Linked DNA regions of Homo sapiens: regions 1, 2 and 3 are each reported to be linked to region 4. Evidence: microRNA targets listed by miRTarBase, many of them from high-throughput screens and not tested one by one. Region 4 holds a microRNA gene; each other region holds the end of a gene's coding sequence.

Region 1 (5,072 bases), not on the chromosome of region 4:
GAAATTAGTCTATTTTTATTTATAAAAATGTAACTAAAGTTATACTTTAAAAAGCAGACAGTTAAAATGTATGGATTATCTTATTGTTCAATACTGTATTCTTTAAAATACAAGGGGAATATGATTTCTAAAGTAATCCTAAATTTAGTTGTCCTGATTCAGTCTAGAGTTAGACCTATGTTCTAGAGCAACACCTATTTGATTCTTATGATTCCCTCTAGTATTATAGGGTAGGGCTGTTCTGCTTTTCTTTATGCTGGGTTTGTGGGTTTTTTTTACTTAAGTCACCCACATGGCCCTTTAGAGCTAATTGGAGTTTATTTGGGACAATGCTTACCAAACTCTGTGAACAAAATTGATTTGTGAAGAAAGAAGACACAGCAACAAATCTCCCAGAGAACTTTAAATCACAGTCCCTAGTTTTTAGTAACCATGAGGCAAAGGGATGGCTACATTTATCAATAGCATACCTTTCCTAAAGCATAGGTGCTGTTAGAATTAGATAATAAATGTTAATATAGCTCTCTGGTATTCAGTGAACTCAATGATCACTTTGTGTTTGTTCTCATCCTCTTTTCTATAGCCAACCCAACCCGAGCAGGCGGCAGAGAGCCGTATCCAGGCTCAGCAGAAGTGATCCGGGAGTCCAGCAGCACCACGGGTATGGTCGTTGGGATAGTAGCCGCTGCCGCCCTGTGCATCCTTATCCTCCTCTATGCCATGTACAAGTACAGAAACCGGGATGAAGGCTCATACCATGTGGACGAGAGTCGAAACTACATCAGTAACTCAGCACAGTCCAATGGGGCTGTTGTAAAGGAGAAACAACCCAGCAGTGCGAAAAGCTCCAACAAAAATAAGAAAAACAAGGATAAAGAGTATTATGTCTGATCCCAAGATCTTAAATGGACACTTGTATAGAAATAGTCTTCATTTTATCTGAGACATAATATAAACTTATTTACTTTCCTTTTTATGAAGCACATACAAAAGAAGACAGGGAATGCAATCAGGAAGGAAAGACTTTTTAAAAAATAAAAACAAGTATCTCATGCTCTTGTTTCTCAAAAAAGAAAAACAAAAAACAAAAAACAGGGGCCAATAAATTCCCTAACATCCACAGTGTTTTCATTTACTCTGCTTGTCTTTATGTTGCTGGAACATTTCTAAAAGACAGTGATGACCGCACGCATTCATAAAGCAAAGGAGTACTACAGCATCAAGGCACAACACAAAAACCAACACAAAACATAACACAAAAAAGAAGCTACCTATGATCCTGGATTTAGCCAAAGTGCTAGCGCTTTCCTGAGAAGTCAGTCCAATTGCCAGAGAAGACTGTCCTTTTGAGTGACTCAACCTGCAAACCTTTAAGAGTTTGCCGCCTGGTGCAACTGGAGCAGTGGTTGGAACTTGCATTTGAAACAAAGTGCTGGCTTTTTTGAAGACTTGTGTAGGAACACATTCAAAAAGCCCCTTTCTGGTTGTGAGAGAGGAAAAAAAAGTATGGAGGCCTTATTTTCAAAAATGTGAAATATAAGGCACGTTTTCACACAAAATTTCAAAACAAAAACAAGAGGGCATAGATGCAATCATTGGGAAATTTTCATGCACGCTTATTATGTTATTACATATGTTTATATAAAATCCATCTCTGTGTGCTTTCTGGACTGTGATAAGTGACGTTTTATAGCCTGTTGTATAGAAAATGCAAAATATATCTCTGCTCTTCAGCCATTTTTGGTAAATTCAATGTTATAAGTGTTGCTAAGTATAGGGAGTTTTATGACATCAGAGCAACAATTATTTCAGTTGGGTTTTTCTTTTTTTTTGCCACCATTATAAATTGCCACAATTACTTTTATTTTTTAAAGAAATTACAGTGTAGTGTTTATTCTAAGGAAGATATGTATGAATGTATATACAAAGACTCAGCTACTTCTTTTCTTATATGTACAGCCTTCATTCTGTTGCAATTAAGTTTTAGTACTTGTATGAAAGGTGTGAATTAGAAAGTCACATATATACATATGTATCTTATAATCTTTTCTCCCTGAAATACTCACATTCCCACATACATTCACTATTTTCACACACACACACACACACACACACACACACACACACACACACACACGAATCCACAGCAATCCATCAGATATGCTGGAAGATCCAAACGTGCATACAGTAGCAAATATTTATTGACAAATTGAAAAGCAGGAAGGAAGAGGGTTGTGCCAAGGTATTGATGACAAATGGGGTGATTTGCTTCATTGAGATCTTGCTCCCAGGTAACCTTAAGAAGATTTTAGTCCCTAAAGAAATGAACCTTTCCTTATCAAATAGAATATCACTGATATACTGCTGCATGAATAAGAACCATTATGTGGGCAGGTTATGGAAGCAAAATTGGTTAATCTACACCTTAACTCTGGCTGCTGCAATTGAAAACTTTCTTTCTAATAAAATAATATATATATCTCTGAATCTGATGTGCATGATGAACATTTCTGGAAAGTAAACACTTTCTCTCGACTAAGAAAGTATTTTTCAGTAATTTTTGATTCTGTATTACTACCCACTTAAAAAATCATTCTCTGTTAATTATTGACTATGTTTTAACTTTTCTGGTTTTACATATATATCATTAAATATAGTTTTAGTTTAACACATTAAGTAGTGGAAAAGTATAGATTATACACTTGTTTTGCATATTATTCAATGATGTTCACAGCAATAAATTACTAATATGAGAAGGTAGTGCAAAAAATGCATTATTACATTGCAAGTTGATGTTTCAGGAAAAATTGGTTGCATTACTTGAATACCTTCTAAAAGAACGATAAAAAATTTTGTAGAAGAGAAGAATATCTTTCCAATTAGCTTTAATCAGCAAAGGCAAAAAATGCAAAACATCTTTTGTGATACTTTAGTTGATGAAAAAAAAGCCAAGAAGTGGCCTGGATTTCAGACATACAGCACCTTAGAAATATGTATAATTCATAGCAAATCACCACTATCTATGGTTGCCAAGTAATTGTTGTGTACAAAGAAATTTAGTGGCTTTTTATGACCCAGAAAGTAGAAGGTATAAAATGAAAATTTAATATCCATTGCTTCTTTTCTAGATTTTCATTTTTTTTAATTTGCCACATTAAATAATTCACGAGTCTTTTCTTTTCCCCCGTCTCATTCAGTCTTACTCAGGGAAAGCCAGTTAAATAAGAAGGGAAGTGTAAAACTACTAATTTACAGCTTGAAGGGTTTTTTTTTTTAAGATTGCTTTTCTATTTTATCTATTAAGCTTGAACCAGTTTCCATCTGGAAAGATTCTAAAATATAATAGAAAATAAATTGAATAATGGTAATTTTAAGCAGTATATCTATGAAATGTGTTGTTTGGGATTGATTTCAATGTTTCTCCCCAGCGTAAATTTTAAAGTTACATGCAATGATTGATATAGTTTATTATCAGCAAAATTATTTCTAATATTATTGGCTTACACAAACTCTAGCAAAAATTATTTTTTCCTCAATGGAAAAAGAAAAGAGAGGAACAGAGTTAGAAAGAGAAAATGACTTGAATCCCAAGTATCTTCATACCAAACATATCAGGGTTCCCTGCATAGTTTGCAGTTGATTGAGGATTTCACACGACTTGGCATAAATTTGATTACATCTCTAGACTGTAACTTTTCTGATTGATTATGCTTCTTTTTTATCCATGTAATGTGTTGCCTTTTTTAAAAGAACAAATACTACAATAACGTGTGAAGTGGTCAATCCCTAAGACATCAAAGAAAGGCCACATAACCCTACCCTTCTAGTGCTTTGTGTGATTGGGTATCAAAGGGGTTTTCTTCTTCTTTTTTTGTTTGTTTGTTTTTCTGTTGCAAGGCCAATTTATCCATTATTGGAAATGCTAAGCAAGTGGAATTTACTGTTTTGTTAATAAAATATTTCTTAATACAACTGTGATTTATTGATTTTAAAAATTATATGCGGCACCATTTCGTGCTTAAGTGGGAAAGTAAAGAAGGCTGCATTTGAAGGGAAGACCCATCCTTATATTATAGAGGAAGAATGTTGACTCTCTTTTTTCTGGATTTAACTAGTCATTAAAGACCTCTATATTCATACACTTAAAGATGTAGCCATTAAATGTACTTTTGTTATATTTGTTCATCTTGATATGCCAGAAACCATAAACTCATACAGTATTAGTTGCAAACAATATTAAAATACTAATTTCATAAATATGCTTTTTCTCTATAAAAGACAATGGAATCCAAGTTAAGTAAACCTGTGATTAAATTCCAACACTATCACATACTCGTTACTATTTGCCTAATTTCTTTGACTCTCACATTGTGTTATTTATTTGGAAAAAAACAAACAAATCTAAATATATAAAAGAACGTAGTGTTTGTTTCCATAAAACTGTATTTATTTCTTACAAAGAAAATTAGCTTTTTAGAAATCAGATGATTTATCAGAGTAAGTAAGTTTTAGTTCAACAGTTGGAAACTGTTGTTTTAAAACCCTGGCACTTGAAAATGATTTTATGATGAAAATGCACTTTTTTTCTTCAACAGTAAAAAGTCTGAACATGAATGCTTAATTCGTTTTGTTCCTGCAGTGTCTAGATATATTTGTTATTTCTTTATTGCTATTAATTCATGACAATCCACATTTTGTTAATGTCTAAATTAAAGGATATATAATTTAGTTTCCCTTAAAAATAGGTAGGCACTTCAAAGGCGGTTGCTATATAAAACTTAGTAATCAGACCAAGGATTTTGGGTCTTAACCTATAGAGGGCATAGATGCCCAGGGCCCAGTGATTAGGCATCAGGGGTTACTAACTTATATGTACAATAATAGAGATAGATAAATGTAAATATATATGTAAAAGATATATATGTATATATAATGGATAGATATATTAATGTAAATATATATAATTGCTATTATATATATATTTAAAATTAATATTTTAATATAAGTATTAAATATTTAACATAAAATAATTATATATAGTATATATTTATACATAAAATAACTTGGCAGGT
Region 2 (4,990 bases), not on the chromosome of region 4:
CATGCTTTGAGGAAGCCCAGGCCAATGGAGCTATGTATAGGCATTAGTCAATAGTCCCAGTCAGACTGGGAGAAGACCACGGAAGAAGTTCTGGAGGATTCTACTCCACAGCCATCAAGTCTATCAAGTCACCTTTGAGTCTTTCCAGGTGAATCCCCAGACATCATGGAGGAGACAAAAATTGTCCCCATATGAGCCCTGTCCAAACCTCTGACTCTCAGAATCCATGAGCATAATAAAATAATTGTTTTATGCCACTAAGTTTTGGGAGCGGTTATCCAACTAGAGTAATTAGGACAGCCCTTTGTTAACTAGATAATTTCTACCTGTCTCAGCTTAAGTGTAACTTCCTCAGGAATGCTTCTAGACCCCACCCGTGACCCAGCTAGATCAGGTTCTGCTACTATAGTATCTTTTATTTCTCCTTATATCTAAACAGCTATTTTTCTTGTCAATTACATTTTTTTGTTAGTTTGTTTGTTTTTGAGATGGAGTCTCACTCTGTTGCCCAGGCTGAAGTGCAGTGGCACCATCTCAACTCACTGCAGCCTCCGCCTCCCATGTTCAAGCAATTCTCCTGCCTCAGCCTCCTGAGCACCTGGGACTACAGGCACCCGCCACCAGGCCCAGCTAATTTTTAGTGGAGACAGAGTTTCACTATATTGCCCAGGCTGGTCTCTAACTCGTGACCTCAAGTGATCTGCTCGCCTTGGCCTCCCAAAGTGCTGAGATTACAGGCCTGTGCCACTGTGCCCACTCTGATTTCATTTAAATGTATGGTTTGCTTAGAAAGGTTAGAAACAGGCCGGGTGCGGTGCCTCACACCTGTAATCCCAGCACTTTGGGAGGCCGGGGCAGGTGGATCATGAGGTCAGGAGTTCGAGACCAGCCAGACCAACATGGTGAAACCCTGTCTCTACTAAAAACACACACACACACACAAATTAGCCAGGTGAGGTGGCATGCACCTATAATCTCAACTACTCGGAAAGCTGAGGAAGGAGAATCACTTGAACCTGGAAGGCAGAGGTTACAGTGAGCCGAGGTTGCACCACTACACTCCAGCCTGGGTGACAGAGCAAGACTCCATCTCAAAAAAAAAAAAAAAAAAAAAGAAAGAAAGAAAGGTTGAAAACAAATATTATATTTACCATGTGACATACAGAAGTTACTAGAAATCCATCTTATCCCTCCATTTTGTAAATGCAGATATCAAAACAACCCCAATCATATATTCTCCATCATTTTATTATGAAAAGTTTCTTTTCTGAGACGGAGTCTCGCTCTGTCACCCAGGCTGGAGTGCAGTGGCGCAATCTCGGCTCACTGCAAGCTCTGCCTCCCAGGTTCAAGTGATTCTCCTGCCTCAGCCTTCCGAGTAGCTGGGGCTACAGGCGCCCGCCACCACGCCCGGCTAATTTTTTGTATTTTTAGTAGAGACGGGGTTTCACCGTGTTAGCCAGGATGGTCTCGATCTCCTGACCTCGTGATCCGCCCGCCTTGGCCTCCCAAAGTGCTGGGATTACAGGCATGAGTCACCGCGCCCGGCCATGAAAAGTTTCTAAATTACAGCAAAGTTGAAAAATTTTACAGTGGACACCCGCATATCCGCCACTTAGATCCTACCATGAACACTTTGCTGTATTTGCTTTATCTCACATCTACCTATTACACTATTTATCCATCAATCCAACTCATCTCTGGATGCATTTCAAAATAAATTGTCGACATTGGTTTATTGTTCCCTAAATATTTCAGTGTACATACTTTTTTTTTTCTTTTCTTTTTTTTAAAGACAGGGTCTAGCTCTGTAGCCCAGGCTGGAGTGCAGTGGCATGATCTTAGTTCACTACAATACAGCCTTGAACTCCTGGGCTCAAGTAAACCTCCTGCCTCAGCGCCCCTCCCCGCCCCTAGTAATGGGACTGCAAATCGTGTGCCACCACATCTGGCTATTTATTTACTTATTTATTTTTGTAGAGACAGGTCTTGCTGTGTTGCCCAGGGTAGTCTCAAACTCCTGGCCTCAAGTGATCCTCCCGCCTTGGCCTCCCAAAGAAGTCAGATTACAGGCGTATCTTTAACTGGCGTTCAATATTTTCTTTTGAGGTAAACTTTACATACAATGAAATTCACACACTTCACTAAGTTTCATAAGTGCATACACCTGTGTAACCCAAACCCCTCCCCAGCATGGCAACTAGTTTTTTTTTTTAATGTAGCCTCTAAAGCAAGTGTCAGAGAGAGAGAGAAAGAGAGAGAAATTATCTTTTTTTTTTTTTCCACTGCAACCTCTGCCTTCTGAGTTCAAGCAATTCTCTTGCCTCAGCCTCCTGAGTAGCTGGGATTACAGGCACCCACCACCAATGCCTGGCCAATTTTTGTATTTTTAGTAGAGACATTTCACCATGTTGGCCAGGCTGGTCTTGAACCCCTGACCTCAAGTAATCTGCCCACCTGAGCCTCCCAAAGTGCTGGGATTACAGGCGTGAGCCACCATGCCCAGCTGAGAAATCATCTTTTCTAACTGCACTTTAGAAGTTAAGCTGCATCACTTCCTCTGCATTTTATTTGTTGAGGGGCCCAGTTTCAAGATGAAGGGACATAGACTCTGCCTCTTGATGGCAAGTGTGTCAAAGAATATCAGGTTTATAAAAACCGTTAAGTTTTCCAACAGTCCAGAGAGGAGGTGATGACAGCCTAGATTGAGGTGTGAGCAGTAGAAGGGGAGAAGCAGTTGAATTCTGGATAGATTTTAAAGGTGGAGGCCAGGTGCGGTGGCTCACATCTGTAATCCTAGCACTTTGGGAGGCTGAGGTGGGTGGGACACCTGAGGTTAGGAGTTCGAGACCAGCCTGGCCAACATGGTGAAACCTCGTCTCTACTAAAAATACAAAAAATTGCCAGGCATGATGGCTCATGCCTGTAATCCCAGCGCTTTGGGAGGCTGAGGCAGGAGGATCACGAGGTCATGAGTTTGAGACCAGCCTGGCCAATATGGTGAAACCCCGTCTCTACTAAAAATACAAAAATTAGCCAGGCGTGGTGGCACACGCCTGTAGTCCCAGCTACTAGGGAGGCTGAGGCAGAAGAATAGCTTGAACCTGCAAGGCAGAGGTTGCAGTGAGCCGAGATCGTGCCACTGCCCTCCAGCCTGGGGGACAGAGCAAGACTCTGTCTCAAAACAAACAAACAAACAAAGAAAATTAGCTGGGCGTGGTGGCAGGTGCCTGTAATCCCAGCTACTCAGAAGGCTGAGGCAGGAGAATCGCTTGAACCCGGGAGGTGGAGGTTGCCGTGAGCCGAGATCATGCCATTGTACTACAGCCTGGGCAACAAGGGTGAAACTCCATCTCAAAAAATAAAATAAAATAAAGGCGGAGATGGCAGGATTTCCTGGTTAACTGTGGGTGGAAGGGAAAGACAGAAGTCAAAGACAACTCTAAGGTTTTTGGTCTGAGCGGCAAAGGACAGAGCCGAAGAAAGTTGGGGAGGGGGGGCCCAGCACGGTGGCTCACGCCTGCAATCCCAGCACTTTGGGAGGCCGAGGCGGGTGGATCACGAGGTCAGGAGACCAAGACCATCCTGGCTAACACAGTGAAACCCCGTCTCTACTAAAAATACAAAAAAAATTAGCCGACCGTGGTGGCGGGCACCTGTAGTCCCAGCTACTCGGGAGGCTGAGGCAGGAGAATGGCGTGAACCCGGGAGGCGAAGCTTGCAGTGAGCCGAGATCACACTATGGCACTCCAGCCTGGGTGACAGAGCTAGACTCCATCCAAAAAAAAAAAAAAAAAGAAGCTGGGGAGAGGCACGCCTAGGGGGAAAGATTGGAAACTCCATTTAGGACCTATGGAATTTGAGATGTCTTTTAAACCCTTGGGTAGAAATGGTAATGAGGTAGGAGCCCAAGGTTTCGTGGCCAGGTCTAGGTTACAGACAGAAATTTGAGGATTATCAGAATAGAGACGGGGTTTAGAGTCATTAAGCTAGACAAGAGCACCTATGGGTGGGTGCAGATAGAGATGTCAACGCCATGGCCCTGGGTCATGCCAAAGTTGACATGCTGGGCTAGTGACTAGGCCTGACCAGAGAGGTGCAGAGAGAAGGGCTGGAAGCAGGGAGAGAAAGTGCTTCAAGGAGGGAGGGGTCAGCTGCACCAGATGCTGCTGCTGCTCAAGCATGTGTGGGCTATAGCCTGACCATCATCCAACACTCTGATGACCCTAGTAGCTTCCTCCGTGGAGGGCAGTCCTTTGGTCCATTTGAGCCAGGGCTCCTGAGTGAAGCCAGATAAGGTGGGTCCCAGTCTTGCCAGAAGTCTTGTCTGAAACTCCCTCTGCCCCAAGGAAGATATAACCAGAAAGGAGATCTTGTTTCCGTGGTCAGGAAGGGGTGGGGGGCAGGGCAGAGCCATGGGGCAGCGGAGGATGGGGGGCATTTCCTTAAATTGGCATGACCCCTTGGCCTTTCCAAACAACCCCTTTCTCACAGATAACCAGTAACTGTATGAAAAAAAAAAAAAGAGCCTCACTGGGTAAAATAGAATCTGTACAATTCAAAGTCTTCTGGCCTCCAGGGAATCTCCTTCCCTTCTTAGCAGCCTCCTTGGGGACCTAGGGGGCGACCCGGCTGGAGGGGACCAAGATCCCAGGTCTTCAGCCTGGTCCAACAGGAACGATAATCGGGCATCCGCTTCCCTGGAGAAAGGCCGGGAGAGCAGAGGCTGGGGTATGTGCTCAGGCTTAGAATCTGGGGCTGTGGACGGACTGCTGGGACAGGGGATGAGGAGGGCTGGATGCCTAACCGGGTCTCAGAGGTCTCCGGGGCCCAGTGTCATAGACTCTGGGGATGGAGGGTCGGTCACCTTTTCTGCCGACTCAGCTCTGCCCTATGGGCTCTTAGCACCTGCAGCACGGGATCGTCCTGGAACTCGCTGCCGTCGGAGTCTGGGCCGGGGAGAAAAGAATGAGCTCCAAGGGGCCGGCCT
Region 3 (5,072 bases), not on the chromosome of region 4:
TCTGTTCTCACATTACATGTCATGGTATTTACTGTCACCTACTACCCCACATTCTTCTCTGAACTGTCTCACTCCTCTTCACCTTCATTCCCTGAAAACATACCCTCAGGGCAAGTCCCTTGCCTGCTTCTAGAGCTGGGTGTACTCTCTCTCTCCCATGATGTCTGCTCCTGGGGTTTCAGACATCACCTTTGCACCGAAGACTCCTGTCCACACCTTGTCCTCAAGTTCAAGTCTTGGCTGGGCATTGTCAGTTAGACCTGACATCTTAAACTTTCAAAATATTTAAAATTGAATTACATTTTAGATGTTCTTCCTCAGCCATTAAAACAAACAAACAAACTCCAACCCTTGCTCCTCCTATGCTATTAACTTAGTACCCTTTACTGTCATCTATCTTGTCCTCCCTCATGGTCAGGCAGCTGGCACAAGCATCTTGGAATCACACCGCATTGCCCTCACCTCCTTCCTGGCTCAGTGCCTCTTCCCTACCAGGATCAGACCTTGTTTTTCTCCATTCCACCTTGCACATTCTATCCAGTTATTTTTCTTCCCTGCTAAAACACCTTCAATGCCTTCTTATTATCAAAATACGCTAGAACTCCTCACTCTGGCATTTGAGGCTCTCCACAAATGTCTGTGTCTAAGATTCAGTTGCTGCTGCTCCACTCCCTATACTCCATGTCCAGTCAGTTGGGTAATTCATACTTCCTCACACTTTCTAGTTGCCATTGAGCTGCCTGTACTGTCTCCCCGACTTCAAACACCCTCCAAAACCAGGTTCACCTGTCAAAATCCTACATACCTGTCAAGCGCATCCATCTCAGATGCTCCTCTCTCAGGAGGTCTTTCTGTGAGCTTGCTTCATTCATGTCCTCAGAGCAGAGGCATGTTTCTGGTTTATTACACTTGTTATGTTGTATTGCATTATTATTGCATGGACACTCATCCAATTCTCCTGCCAAAGAGCAAATATGCTCTTGAGACTATAGTCCTATAGTCTATTTGGTTAGAAGCAGTTTACACAAAATACACTGCATTCATCCTTGGAACATGTCTGCCAGATGAATTGCACGGGGGCTGATCTACCTAGAGTAAAGAAAACTCAGAGAATAAGGGGACTGGATTCATGTGCCTGGAGGGCTGTTTGCAGTGGAAACTCAGTATGTCCCAGGGAAACAGAGCTCACACCAACATCTCTGCCTCCTGAGGGTGTCCTGGATCCTCTCGCAGTGAGCAATATTTCTAGGGATATTACTATGAGCTTTCTATCACCCATCCAGGGTTTAGATAATTCACCATATCCTGCCTGGGCTCTTCTCCCTTCAACCCTATGGCTTTCTAAGTGCCAGGCCTGTGTACAGATGATGTGCAGCCCTCTCCGAAAAGAACATGTTGGACATTTGCTGCCATCTAGTGAAGGTAGAGTGGTCCAACCTTTTGATAAAGCTAAGCAGATCTTGTTTTCTCCCTAGGAGGTGGCCCCTGGAAACCAGCCCTGGTTAAACAGAAGCATGTCAGGGTATACAGGTGTGCATGGAAGGGAGGAGGGTGAAGCCTGTTTTATTATTATTTTTATTTTGTTCCACATATTCTGAGGGTGAAGCTTCTATACAAAACAGATCACATTCAAGCTCCTGCATGGCAGTCTGGAATGGGCAAGACCATGTCCTTCCAGATCCTCCCCCTACCTCTAGCCAAAAGGTACCCTTCTTGAAATGATGACGAGCCATCTTTTTTTTTTTTTTAGAAACTTGATAGGGAATCTATAAAACACCTAAGGTTCATAATCAGAGCTTCTTTTAAAGGAGCCATAGGTTACTTCCAGTACCTCAAGGAGAATGTGGCCATGACTTTGTAACTAGTGATTTCCACAAGGCCCTCCCAGTCCTGCACAGGAGCCCTGGTAGCCCATCTCAAAGCTTCCCTGGTCCTGAGCCCACCCACTTCCCCTTCCCATCATGGCACACAGGCTCGGGCTCCACCAGGTGCATGACTGTATGCAGGTCACTCAACTTCTCTGAGCCTCAGTTTTCTCCTTTTTAAATGGGGTATATCTTCCTCATTGGGTTGGTACGAGGTACAAAAGAGATCATTCATGACAAATGCTTAGCCAGTGCCTGATGCACAGAAACCACTAAATAAATATTAGATAATGATATTATCACTATTTTTACCAATGCTTCAGAGCACAAGGCTGCCTACAAAACTCAGGCCCTTGAAATGAATACATCAAGTCATGGTAAGATCTTACACACTGAAAATAATCACCTCTCAGCCCACCACAGGATCCAGTGCTGCCATTCCCTTTGCTGGGCAGTGTGGGGCAGGTCAGAGGGCCCGACCTCAGACTCCAGGCTGCTGACAGACACATCAGTTCTTCTCACCTGTCTGAGATACAGGGTTCCAGGGCTATCTCTATGAGGTTTTCCTCCACTCCTCAATGATCACAATGTAGGTTCTTTGCCCCTCGCCCAGCCTTTTGGGGGACTGAAAGCCTAATGCCTGTTTGACCTCTTGGCATCTCCAGTTTTTAGGGAACTCCTGGGCTCCTCCTGCTCCCAAGCCCTTTTGATAGGTCTGGGTGTTTCTTTGAAACAGACATTCAGCCAAAACTGTAAATAGGGCTCATCAAATGGCTAAGATCACTGGTTAAGCAGTATGTCTATGGATCTCTCACCCCGTGCCCCACGTGTTGCTAAGAGGGTACTCTCTCTGTCCAAGGTGCCCACTGCAAATATCTTAACCAGCCAAGTGGGGCTCTCTTTTCAGTTTCAGCAAGTGATGTGCTGCAGTCAGCTTGAGCCAGCTCTCAAGAACTTATTATGAGCATCTCTTCTCAACTCCACGTCCAGTAACATGTTGATAGCTTGAAATCAGCCATAATGGGAGTACTCACACCACAGAGATTAGTGAATGCTATAAAGCATGGCTTTCTTTTTCCTGAACAGTCAGTTGTTAAACACTTGTCAGATACACCACTGGTTCTAGTCTTTAATTGCAAGCAAAGCACCACATTTAAACCACTACTCACACAACCACTGAACAAAAGGGGAATATTAGTGTACTACCTGAAAGGAACACAAACAGAAAGCTTTATTGAATTTATATATATATATATATCTGAGATGGTAGCTTGTGAAAGGGTAGTAATTGACAAGTCAAGATTGTGCCTCTAGGTTTTAAACAAACCCAAAATAATTAATGTTGGTAAAAAATGTCTGCAATAAGCTATTCATTTATTGGCAAGTTTTGAATTTTCATTTAGCATGCAAAAGAGCTACATGTGATAAACCACATACTTGCATCAGGAAAATATCAAACAAAAATGATGTATCTAGAAACATAGAAAATACAACTTAAAATTTTAATGTGTTTTTTGTTTCTTATTCTTTTTTGTTTAGATATAATTTGAACCATGTTTCTTTTCTTTTCTTTTTTGAAACAGAGTCTCACTCTGTCACCAGGCTGGAGTGCAGTGGCACGATCTTGGCTCACTGCAACCTCCGTCTCCCAGGTTTAAGCGATTCTCCTGCCTCAGCCTCCCAAGTAGCTGGGACTACAGGCGCACGCCACCATGCCCAGCTAATTTTTGTATTTTTAGTAGAGACGGAGTTTCATCATGTTGGCCAGGATGGTCTCGATCTCTTGACCTCGTGATCCACCTGCCTTGGCCTCTCAAAGTGCTGGGATTACAGGCATGAGCCACTGCGCCCGGCCTGAACTATTTCAATCCTAAAATTGGTATGTCCTTTTACAGTCCTTCCTGGTGTCTTCTTCCTTATTATAATAGTACCACTGGTTGTCAAGTAGCCTTATCTTATATCTCTGTAAGTATTATTTAAAATGAAATTGAAATATCATTTATTTTAGCCAGAAAAGAAAATGGAATGGCTAATTTGGTGAATCCACTCCCTGTTGATACACTAAGCTGCTGACCCCTGGAGCTCAGAGGCTGAAGGCAAGGCTGTGAAGCTATGAGGTAGGCGTGGAGGTGAGGGCTCAGTCACAGTGGACCTTGCCCTTGGCCACCCCAAAGCTAGACAAGTCTCCATTGCAAAGAGTCTGGAGTGGTGAATGAGGCCCGTTTTCCAAGTCATTTTGGTCACCTTGGTCACCCTTGGTCACCTTCATCATGTACTTTCGAAAGGCCTTTTGAATAATAGCAGCACCTCTTTCCTCTTCCTTTCTCTTGGTGGTGGTGACTATGGGTTCATACAACTTCTTGAGAGGATTGGCTTCCATGAACTTCTCTTCCATCATTGCTTTCATACTATCTAGGCCATCAGAGCCACCGAGTACCCTAGCGGTGAAGGCGAAAAGAATATCCATGCAGTGGAGGCGATCTTCACTCACCATGGGCAAGTCCATTACTAGAAATTGATATTTATTTGGCTTTGCGACACGCAAAGGCTCAGGCAAGGCATCAGCAAAGTCAGAAAGGGCAGAATATTTGATAAATTGTGTTGCTTCTGGGTCAAACTTTTCCCACACTTCATAAAATATGTCAAAGTCATCTTCACCCAAAGGGTCCTCACTTTCTTCAGTGGCTGTATTGAAGTTCTCTAAAATCACAGCAATGTACATGTTGACAACAATGAGAAAGGAGATGATAATGTAACTGACAAAGTAGGATGTGGCTATGCCAGGGAGGTGGCAGTTTTCTGAGGAAGAGTTACATGATTCTTTTGATCGCAGCATGGGGCTGAGCAGGGAATCCCAACCTGCTGATGTGCTTATCTGGAAGAGACAGAGCATGCTGCTGGCAAAAGTCTTGAAGTTGAATATGTCATCGATTCCAGACTCTGGATTCACTTTGGAAAACCAGTTCATACCCAGAATGGCATAGATAAACATAATCAGAAAGAGTAGAAGACCAATGTTGAACAGAGAAGGAAGCGACATCATCAGAGCAAAGAGGAGAGTCCTGATTCCTCGTGCAGCCCGGACAAGCCTCAGGATTCGGCCAATCCGAGCCAAGCGGACAATTCTGAAGAGCGTCGGAGGGAAAGGAATGTGCTCCTGATTTTCCAAGGTAGAAATCATTGTACCTCAGGAGAAGGAGAAAAGTA
Region 4 (5,072 bases):
GTCCATACACAATCCACCTTGCCGGTGCTCTCGCACCCTGCCCGAACACCCCTTCTGGCCACGCAGCCGTCCGGGCCACACTCGTGCTGCGGTCCAGCCCAGGACTTCGAACCTCGCCCCCTGCACGACCCACACAAAGCCCTGAGCCCTGGCGTTCCCACCCGAAGCCCCCAGTCCCCGCTGCCGCCGTCTTCTTCACCTGTTCTCGGGAAGGGCTGCATCTCCGAGCCGAAGTCAGGCCGTGGGCCGGGGCGAGGTCCCAGAGAGGCCACAGCGGATCTGCCAGGCTGAGCCGGAGCCCCAGCAGCCGACGAGAGATCTCAGAGACCAAGGCTCGCCTTGGCGAGCTCTTGCCTTTTCTTCCTCCCGCAAGTCTCAAACATTCATACACTGAGAGTTCAGCTCTATAAATCCTGCTCCTCTTTCCCATATCATAATTAAAAAAAAAACAGTAGGGGAGGTTTTAACTTTTATTGCGATTTCTGGAGTTGGGCTGCGGAGCATATATTAAGTTTACGCTTATGCGCTCTCGGCGGGGAGGGTCCTTTAAGAAATAAAAATCCATCTTAATATCCACAGACGAGAGAGATAATTTTTTCTCTTCTCTTCACGCTGTTCCTTCTGAAGACTCCCTTCCGGCGAAGGGAATAAATAATTACCATCGCCTTAGCCATGATCCACGGCCTTGTGCCGGGGGTGGACTCTGACCACCAGACTGGTCCTCACCTTGGCCCTATGAGACCTCGCTCCATTTCTCTGCATTTGGGGAGGAGACACCTCAACCCCTGGCTCTCTGACCTCCCACACATAAGCCCAACAGCTCTGAAACGGAAATGGGGGCACAGAGACCCAAAGCACAGAAGTCGTTCATTAGTGAATTTCGGCCCATCAGGGACTCTATCTCCAAGCCAAATGCTCCTGAGCACCCAGTCCCTGCCTGGGACACGCTTTGCCCCAACTGACTGTGTGCCTGGGGCAGCCTGAAGACTCAAAGGCTGCTAGGAGCTCCCAAACTAGGGGAATCCCTTGCCTGCTTCCCACCAGCTGGCCTGACTCTCTGGAAACTTCCCCATTTCCCTGGGAGCCATAGAGAGGTTTGAATACTTCTCTCCAAGAGAAGAAATTTTTTCTCTCACAAAGGGATGGGGGACAGACAGACCAACAATCCAGCTAGGGAGACAGGAAATTCTATTCCCATTTTCTCCTCCAGCTTCCTTGGGAGTCAAAACAAATATGTTCGCATAAGAGAGGGGAAAAATAAATGTGTATGCGTATAAATACATACAGGGTATTTAAGAGAGCCTAGGGGAGACAGAAACAGAGCCCTACACTCATACAAGGTCACATATATCCCTCCCAGCAGATGACTGTGAGAATATAGAACTCTGTATATATTTTGTTACAGGGACATAATTTTGTTTCCCTGTCTAGACGTTTATAATGTTTTAATAATCATAATAATTTCAAAGTAAGAGAACCAAGAACCTGACCTTCTTTTGGCTTCTCTTCCCCAGTATCTCTGAGAACAGGGGTGTATCTCCTCAGTCTCCATAACCCCTCCCCCATTTATTCCCCCCCCCCCAACTCCGCCCGCAGGCAGGCAAAGAAACCTCTTTTGAGAACTTTCTCTGTAGCAACCAGGGCCAGAATTGAAGAACCAAGGGGGAAAGGATGAGAGGAAGCTTTGCAAAGTTTCACACTGCTCAGATTTTCCTCTACCCCATTCTCCTCCCCTCCTCCCCCTGGCATCAGCCAACAACCTTTCCACCAACATAGCAATGGTGGGCACGGGCAGCCTCTGTTCACCCAGATGTTTCCACATAGTGCAAAGACAGGCAGCTGCCTGACAGTCACAGCCACAGAAACTGAGGCCTTCAGGCCACAGACGACTAAACAGAGACCAGAGTCAGGTTTTTGCCCTGATGTTTCCCAGTTGCGTGCGTGTGCGTGTGTGAGGGGTTCTACTTGGACTTTGATGGCTTTCCTCTAACCTACCAACACCCCAAACATGTCCTTCCCCTGGAGATGGAGCTATAGAAGGGGAAGGGGAAAGGGCTGGGCTGGCGCTCAGAGTTCCCCAACTCTTGGAACCTCCAGGTACCCCACTTTTCTAAGGAGAATCTTGAGCCCCAGTCGACTGGAGGTGGTAGGTGGGAGAGGCTAACCATTCCAGAGACCGTCTTCTCTTTCTGTGCTCCTCTTTCTGCTAATAATTCTGCCCCACCCTGCTGCCCAACTGAGCTGGCCCGCCAGGCCACCTCTTACTCAAACTCCTGAATTTCCTTGGAATTGGCTGGACCCTCTTTGTCTGTCTCCATCAGCTGGGCCCAGGAGACAATAGCTGCAGGAAAGACTCCTCTCCCTTAATCACAGGGATTGGGATAGGTTGAGAGGACGGCATAAAGCAGGGTTCTCCAGACTTGTTCTGCAACCCCACTCACAGCTTGTCCTCCTTGGTCTGCACCCACTTTGCCCTATCTGGGAGGGGGCAGTGGGGCAGTCCCACTGGGGAGGGTAGGAGTGGGAGAGGTGGGTTGGGGCCCTCGACGAAAACCGACTGATGTAACTCAGGCAGTTTCTTGTTGCCGAGTTCAAAACTCAATCCCAACAACATGAAACTACCTAAGCCACAGATCAGCTGAGCGAGCAGGGCGGGAGATTCAGCTTTGCATCTATCTGGAGGAGAAGGGAAGGGGGTTGGGGAAGGAAGAAATTCAGCCCCGTCCCCCTTTCCGCCCCCACAACCTCCCTAAGGACTAGAGAGTAGACTTTGGGTTGCTGGGTGGGTAAGGGGTCTGACTGCCTTCATTAGTTTCTGGTCTAAGCAAATTGCTCAGGAAAAATCTGGTGAAATGGGACCACTGGCGGCCAAATACCTGCCCCACCCCCAGCACCGCAGTGGAGCTATTCCCCTGCATCTGGCCCTGGCCCTGGGGGAAGCTGGATCTTCCTTCCACTCTGGAGCTGGGTCCCCTGTCTTGTCCATCTGGCTCTCCTGCACTCTCCTGCTAGACTCCCTCTGATCCTCTCCCTCTCAGCTCGGTTTAGGCTTCTCAGCGAATGTGGGTAGCTGAATCATAGCCCTGTGCTCTGGAGCCACTTCCAATCAGGCCACTTGCCTGGCAAAACGTTACAGCCAGGGAGCACAGGGAACAAGAGGCTGGACGAGGCTCACATCCAAACCAGCGAAAAGCAGGAAAACCTAAGCTTCAAGCTTCAACCCTCTGTACTCCTCCTCCCCCACCAACAGACGACCAGACTGAGCAACACCTAGACCAGAGTGTCGACTTCGAGGAGACCCAAAGTGCCCGAAAAGATAAAGAAGCCAAAAACCATCAATTTATCCCTTTAACTGTGGAACCCCCATGGCAATGGGCCCGGGAGGGAAGGAGAGGGAGCTCCCAGTCGCTGCCCTCCGCTGCCAGCGGCCACTAGGAAAGCCTGGGTTCTCGGCAAGCACGGATGCCCTAAACACCTTCCTCCAGGCTCTGTCCGCTGCACGCCGGACACCTGGGGACACCGCTCATCCCCACTCCGCCGCCAAGAGAAGAACAAGAAACCGCTTCTCTTACCTTGTCGCTGCCTCCTCCTCCTGCTGCTCCTGGCGTTTCTGTTAGCTGCTGTCGAGGTTGGGGGGGCTGAGCTCCTCATGCCCCTCCAGCGGTTAAGTTTATTCCTTTCCTTGGATGGGTGGGGGGCTCTTGGGGTGACCCCCAGCAGCAGTGGGGTGCGCCCAGCCCAGCACCCCAGGCAATCAGATCCGTCTGCTCCTCAAGATTGCAGCTTGCTCTCTGCCTCTTTCCCTCCTCCAGTCACCTTTAAATGCATCTTTTACTGCAGCACCACATTATATTTGCAGATCATAAAATCCACCTCTCGCGCGCACCAAGACCGTCCTGACATTACTGTTTTATGACCTTGACTTATTGTGGTCACCTGGATAATATTTAAATCAACGTTATGGTCTCTCACTTACATTAAACCCGCCAAGAGACGTTCTAGAAAGGCTCTAGGAGATGAGTCAAACACAAAACACACACATCCACACACTCAGCCTCTTCGGGGGAGGGGTGTTGCTAAAAATCACTAAAAACAAAAAACCATCCATTTGAGGATTATGATTCTGGAAATTTATTAGGTTTTTTTTTCTCCATTAAGGAAGCTACATGCAAAAGATACAACATACAGAATATCTTTAAATAACACAACTCCCAGACAGGGACAGGACAATATTTGGGGGGGGGGGCATTCTGTCTTTGCTTTGCTATGTTCTATTTTTAATTTTTTTGTTCCTCTGGATGAAATTTCTGAGATGTTACTAGATGGGGGATGTGGGGGTGCTAGGAGGGGTGGGAGAAAAGCAGAAAGCAGTACAAATACGAGACTTCAAGCAGATTCTTAGAGCGACTGGGAGGTAAAGACATGGAGAGGGTTTGGTGGAGGCTCTGGGTGCTACGACAAACACACGAACACTAGCCGAACTTTCCAAAACGTCTATTAGTCTAAGGAGGAAATGCAGCAAGGAAGGAACGATTCTGCCTGTGCTCTGCGAGATTACAGACCCTCTCTGGTTAATTTTTTTCCTTTTTTTCCCCTACAAGCGGATGGATTCGATCTTAACTTTGCATGGAGAACAGAATGCTGTGTGTGAGTGCGTGGGTGAGTGAGGGCTTGACACACACACCAGCCACACTCCCACCCCCATCTATGAGGGCACACACCACACCCCACATCCCGGCACCCCATTTCTCATGCTTTAAGTGGAAGCATCTTCGCAGCACGAACCACAGGTCCCTTGGAAGGAGAGTCTGAGGTCTTTGCCTTTTTTGCAGTCGCATTGCATTTATACTCAGGGAGGAAAAAAAAATATATCACCAGGCACAAAGGGAGGAGGGGCGGGGAGAGGAAGGAGCGGGAAGGGAGGAGGAGAGGCCGCGCTCTCAGGTGAAATTAAAATTGGAGGTCAGTTCCCGGATCCGATTCTCTCGGTTCATTTTCTTGAGTTTCATTCTGCGATTTTGAAACCAGATTTTGACTTGTCTGTCTGTAAGGTTAATGGTCTTGCTAATCTC

The links. Region 4 holds the annotated microRNA hsa-miR-196a-5p (UAGGUAGUUUCAUGUUGUUGGG, at 2,604-2,625, opposite strand). A microRNA usually pairs through its seed, bases 2 to 8, with sites in the 3' UTR of a target mRNA and lowers its output. Matches are read on the target gene's strand: a 7mer-m8 pairs with bases 2 to 8, a 7mer-A1 pairs with bases 2 to 7 and ends in A, and an 8mer does both.
Region 1: the mRNA of NRXN1 is a reported target of hsa-miR-196a-5p. Seed matches in the 3' UTR shown: 7mer-A1 at 1,268-1,274.
Region 2: miRTarBase lists PROSER3 as a target of hsa-miR-196a-5p. The part of its 3' UTR that is shown has no 7-base or 8-base seed match.
Region 3: miRTarBase lists SCN11A as a target of hsa-miR-196a-5p. The part of its 3' UTR that is shown has no 7-base or 8-base seed match.

What each region holds. Positions count from the first base shown.
Region 1 is chr2:49,917,763-49,922,834 of GRCh38, reverse strand. NRXN1 (neurexin 1) reads left to right here. Exons shown (of 23, transcript NM_001330078.2): 23 at 584-4,332. The coding sequence ends at 891. Among named protein-coding and RNA genes, the nearest start is that of FSHR, 770 kb to the right of the region's middle.
Region 2 is chr19:35,768,114-35,773,103 of GRCh38, reverse strand. It overlaps PROSER3 (proline and serine rich 3), which reads right to left. Exons shown (of 11, transcript NM_001367856.1): 10 at 4,868-4,949; 11 at 1,938-4,700. The coding sequence ends at 4,559. Among named protein-coding and RNA genes, the nearest start is that of ARHGAP33, 5.0 kb to the left of the region's middle.
Region 3 is chr3:38,842,692-38,847,763 of GRCh38, forward strand. SCN11A (sodium voltage-gated channel alpha subunit 11) reads right to left here. Exons shown (of 30, transcript NM_001349253.2): 30 at 3,073-5,051. The coding sequence ends at 4,003. Among named protein-coding and RNA genes, the nearest start is that of SCN10A, 29 kb to the left of the region's middle.
Region 4 is chr12:53,989,315-53,994,386 of GRCh38, reverse strand. It overlaps MIR196A2 (microRNA 196a-2), which reads right to left and starts at 2,649; the gene lies at 2,540-2,649. It overlaps HOXC10 (homeobox C10), which reads right to left. Exons shown (of 2, transcript NM_017409.4): 2 at 4,108-5,072. The coding sequence ends at 4,941.